Regions from separate parts of the Homo sapiens genome. Here region 1 is linked to region 2. A link means that fine-mapping ties the variant in region 2 to the expression of a gene that starts in the linked region. Tissue or cell type: whole blood. Region 2 holds a variant in brackets; the other region holds the start of a gene. All regions are shown on one strand. Distances are from middle to middle.

Evidence for each region. PIP is the estimated chance that this variant, and not a neighbour inherited with it, causes the effect.
Region 1: GLG1 starts here. The variant in region 2 is fine-mapped to the expression of GLG1 in whole blood (INTERVAL, PIP above 0.99). The same link has a PIP of 0.9 or more in NK cells and lung.

Annotation. Positions count from the first base shown.
Region 1 is chr16:74,605,773-74,608,388 of GRCh38, forward strand. GLG1 (golgi glycoprotein 1) reads right to left here and starts at 1,342. Exons shown (of 26, transcript NM_001145667.2): 1 at 885-1,342. The coding sequence starts at 1,322. RefSeq lists silencers at 913-1,092, 1,323-1,512.
Region 2 is chr16:74,446,215-74,448,975 of GRCh38, forward strand. It overlaps GLG1 (golgi glycoprotein 1), which reads right to left. Exons shown (of 26, transcript NM_001145667.2): 26 at 1,226-2,761. Among named protein-coding and RNA genes, the nearest start is that of CLEC18B, 26 kb to the left of the region's middle. The variant T/C (reference allele first, on the strand shown) is at 1,215.

The DNA.
Region 1 (2,616 bases), 160 kb after region 2:
GCTTCATTCTATTTGTCCACCTTTAGGGCTAATTTTATATACCTACACCTCTGGAAAAAGTTACTACTGTCAGATTTGCTCCCAAACTTTGAGAATTGTCATTATGGTCTGCAGCATTAAACCTAGATTATAAATTATCAATGTCACTTGATTATAAATTATCAATGTCACTCAACTGAATCACACCAAGCAACGACAAATGTAGATTTCATTAAGAGATACTGTTAAAATCACATTCAGACCTCAGAAAGGCAAGATCCCATAACCCAGTCACAAACACAGCTTCAAACGCTTCCCCAACTTTTCAAGCTTTGGGGCGCCAAGTCACTGGGAGTTAACAGCTTAAACATGGGGTTCAATACAACTGACCAAAGGAAGTGAAGAAAACAAAGCATACATTAATTTCAGCACCAAAAATATGGATTTGCGAATTACATCTACTGCTAATAAACAGATCATTCTTTACAGCCTAAGTACGCCAGGCATTTTTTTATGTTTAAATGGCTTGCCACAAATTGTCCTAGTCGAAACTGATGGCAAAATCCTAAACTGATCTTCGGCGAGGAGACACTCTGCATAGAGCATCACACAAAAGACAGGAGCGAACAGACACGCTCTGGGCCTCGGCGGATTGCGGCCAGGAGCCCAGGTTTTCGTCCCAGACCCCGGCAACAGGGAGGGAAATAAGGGCGGGGGAAAGAAGGAGTGGGAGTGGTATCCTTTTCCCTGAAAGCGCCTGGGAGTGAGGAGCAAAGAGGGAAGGAGCGAGTGCAGCACAGAGGAAGCAAGGAAAGCAGCCGACCGGCGTCAGCGGCTTCCAAGGCCGGCAACACCCTCGGGCCCGCACCAGGCCTGGCCCTCCCGGCTTCGTCCCACCTCCTCACCTCCCTCACATCCTGCAGGCACTCGAGCACCGCCAGGTTGTTGCTCCAGGTGTGCTTAGGGCACACGCGGGTCACGTCCTCCCTGCAGGACTCTTCCTCCGCCAGCTTCCAGCCCCCACCAGCCCCCGCTCCTCCCCGCCGGGCCGGAGGCCCACCCGCCGGGAAAGGCGGCTGCGGCGGCTGAGGCTGCTGTTGCTGTTGCTGCTGCTGCTGTTGCTGCTGAAGCTGCGATGACTGAGGCAGCTGGGGCAGCTGCTGACCCGCCGGGCCGCCGCCTCCGGCCTGCCCTACGAAGGACACAAAGTTGGCCCCGGGACCCTGGCCCTGGCTGTGGACGCCCTGGCCGGGGAGTTTCTCGGCCCCGGCCGCGAATAGCAGCAGCAGATGCAGCGCCGCCGACAAGCGGAACATCCTCCGTACACGTCCACACGCCGCCATCTTGAGTCCGCGGCGAGCTCGACGCACTCGCCGGCGCCGCGTATTTAAATGAGGGGGTGGAGACGCTGGGCGTGGCAGCGTGGCCCTGCCGAGCCCCGCCCCGCCGGCGCCGACCCGCGAACCCAGAGTGGGGCGAAGGAGGAGGCCGTGCTGGAAACCGCACACACCCTGGACCGGCGGGCGGGAGAGCGGCGCTCCTTACCCGGGGGGGTTGCTGGGGTTTCTTAAAAAGCCCGGGCAGGGCGGCCTACTCTAATTCCATTTGCTGTCACAAAAAAAAAAATCAAGGGAATTGGGGTTGCCACAACCAAAATGGCCGGTAGAATATGTCGCCGGTTCAATGACTTGGAAAACAAAAACTTTATATGTAGAGGTGAACTTTGCACAACCAGGTGTATTACGGAATCGGAAAGCCTCTCCTTGTATCGCTCCCTCCTTCCTTCCTTCCTTCCATCTGCCTCAGAAGTCTTTCTTAGCCAAAGAGAGAGACAGCATTGAATAGGGTTAAGAGCATAAGTTCTGGGGTAAGAAAAAAAATTAAGGTTATAATCCTTGCTCTGGCAGGGTACGCAAGAGCTCAAATGTAAAGTACCATTGGCAAGATTCGAAATAATAATTTAAGTGCCTGGCCCACAACACTGAACTCAAAAAGTCACAGCCAGTATTGTTAATAAACTGGGAAGCCGTTTATGCATGAATCCTGATTTTAAGCCAGCATTTAGATTCATGTTTAAAGGATGAAAAAATAATAATAAAACACATCTTTGAGGACTCGGGTTAAGTCTGTGTGTCGGTAACTGTTCTCATTGACCTGCATGCAACACCGCAGGCACCCCACACTAGCATCCCCTCCCTGTCCTTAGGAGAGAGGATATGTTCCCAAAGCCTCTTCACATCCGCTGTGTAATCTGAGCCATGCATCAGGCCTGCGTTAGGTTCTCATTTAACTGAAGAATGGCACAGAGATGTTAACAGTTCTGCGTGGAGGGATTAAATGAGCTGCCCAAGAGGAACTCTGCCATCCTGTAGACAGCTAGGCTAGCCACCAGAATCCCTGGGGCTTCCCACCACCCTGGCGCACTTTCATCCCACTCTGTCCATGCACATGTTGGGGAATGAGGGCAGTTTGGGTTGTGTAATCTCCACTGGTCATTGTGTCCAAAAATGCGAATTACATCTACTGTAGTAAACAGACAGCTTCTGCTGTCCTGACCCGCAAATGAGCAGTCAAGACCAAGTTAGACATAACTAGAACCTGAAAAGTCAGGAGCTCAGGGAACCCAAAAGGAGCTCC
Region 2 (2,761 bases):
GGATGTCTAAGGTTCTCCTCATTTTGGCTAAAACTCTTTAATTCCTAGCCCCTTTTGAGGACAAATGCCAAATGCCTCTGAGGATTATGTTGGCCAAGGATTTTTTACCAGAAACATCTTCACACATAAAATGTGAGGGTGGGGGCGATACATTCAGACTATTAAGGCTTCAGCTGGGCAGCTGTCTCCATCACCGCCAGGGCCTCTGGGGCTGTGGCGTCCACTTATGGGGCAGAGTGGAGCTGGGGTAGGTGAACCAAAATCTCCCTTGTAGGGTGCACTGGTGACAAGGAGCCTGAACCATGGACCCCACCTTCCTAAGCTTAGATCAAAGCAGGCAGCCTCTCCAAGACGCTCACGGACAGGCTCCCCACATGCAGAGACTGATGGCTGCCTTGGGCTCCCTAGACAGAGCAAGATCTGCAGTGATGACTCACAAGGACCCCAAGTCCCTCCTCCTTCTTCCTCCTCTACTCTTCACCTTCTCCCCGTCTCTCCTCTATGTCTGGGCCCACAGCCTCCTAGGTGACAACTGCCTATGATGGGCATGAGTTCTGAGAACAAACCCTGGGTCCCAAGTATCTGCCTCCTCTCGCAGCACATCTCATTCCTCAAATCGTAGTATGGATATTACCACTTCAAGAAACCCCTGCTACCATGCAAATTCCTGAAGCCATTCATTTTTAACACGCAGACGCAAATTAACTTCGCCGAGACAGGCAGCAGCAGAAGGCTCAGGGAGGAGGTCTGGAAAGGCTACTGACGCAGGGACTGGGCTGCTGGAATGTGAGGGAGAAGACTGACAAGGGGGTGATGGGGAAGGGTGGCCACTGAAGATCAGGCGCCTCTCAGGACCAGCCATCCACACGTCAGATCTGTACACAGAGCTGCCAGATTCTGCTCTCCCCAGGACAGAGCCTCATGATGTGGGCTTAAACATATCAGTAGAATGAATAATTCTGGACACATTGGCTCAAGAGTCAGAAAACCCCAGACGTGACTTCCAGCTCTGCTACTAGCAGCATACAGAAACCAAGGGGATCAAGGTCCCTAGTCCTCTAAAAGTCCTTGAGTCCTACTCTGCTGAACCTAACTGGTCAAGAACTAAGGACCTGATCAGCAAGGTTTGTGAGCATCAGTTGGCAAGTTCAAGGCCACTGCTTCCACTAGCAGAGAGGTGGTTGAGGTTCCTCCCAGTCACCACAGAGAAGATT[T/C]AACAAGTAAAAACCTGCAAACTCTTTATTAAATTCTCCCATTTCATCTGTACAGAAAAAAATGCACATTATGTTCAGAACATATCTCAGTAACATCTCAAAATTACACAGCATGAACATGTAAAAACAAGGGACCACCACGATTTTATACATAGAAAGGAAACCCATTTACAAAAGAGGCTTGTTAATTGTATTTTTTTCTTTCTTTCAAAAACAAAACAAAACAAAAAAAGTGAAAAGCCTAAGATCTCACACAGCATTTGCTGTACAGACTGTTTTCCGGATGGACTGGTTTGGGAACACTGTGCTGGGGGAAGCTGCCCAGGAAGCGCTCCCGCTGCCGGCTTTCCGGAGGTCTCTGCCCAGTGCACTGCAGGGGGACCTGGAGGGCCCATTTCTACCACCCTAGCATGTCTGACAGAAAGCCCTGCTGGGCTCTGGGGTCCAGATGTCAACTCTACATTGGAGGAGGCAAAACACAATCTAGAGGCACTGTCTGAACTTTCCCCTGGCCCAGGGAGATTTCTCCACTGCACACAGCACAGTGTCCTATACATGTGTCCTGGTGGAGCAGAGGGAGCGGGAGAGGACCACGGGTCAGGATCCTGTCACCACCAGCCTGAGCAGACAGTCCCATCTTTGTGATCCAGGTGACAAATAATCAGTCCCTGGTCCCCACAATGACCTCACCAGATGGCTTTGGGGAGCTCTTCACCCTAAAGATTCGGTCTGGTTTGCTAATGACTTATCTATTATCTGAAGTCTGTGGAGGAAGGACCAAGAAGGGGTGCAGTTAGAGGGATGAGCAACCAAAGACCAATGGGAGGGAAGGCAGGCAAGAACCTCAGACCCGGCCCCACGCCCTCTAGGAACCAAAGTCTAGTGGAGAGGAGGCGAGTGGGGAGGAAGGAAGTGTCCCTCAAGGCCTGAGAGAGACCCACAGCACCAGATGCTGCATTTTACAAAACCACTTAGGTGCTGCCCAAATGGTGAGAAATAAAAGGAAGCATTCTGGCCTTTCAGGTTTTTCAAACTCACAAGATGTTGAAATACAAGTAAATATACCAAAATGCACATAATTGAGGCCAAGGTGGGTGGACCACATGTGGTCAGGAGTTCGAAACCAGCGTGGCCAACATGATGAAATCCTGTCTCTACTAAAAATAAGAAAAAATTATCCAGGCATGGTGGTGCATGCCCGTAATCCCAACTACTTGGGAGGCTGAGGCAGGAGAACTGCTTGAACCTAGGAGGCAGAAGTTGCAGTGAGCCGAGATTGCGCCACTGCACTCCAGCCTGGGCAACGAGTGAAACTGTGTCTCAAAAGAAAAAAAAAAAAAAGGCCAGGCCGGGCGTGGTGGCTCACGCCTGTAATGCACTTTGGAAGGCCGAAGTGCACTTTGGCCGAAGTGGGCCACTTTGCGGCCACTTTGGAAGGCCGAAGTGGGCACATCATGAGGTCAGGAGATGGAGACCATCCTGGACAACACGGTGAAACCCCGTCTCTACTAAAAATACAAAAATTAGCTGGGTGTGGTGGTGCATGC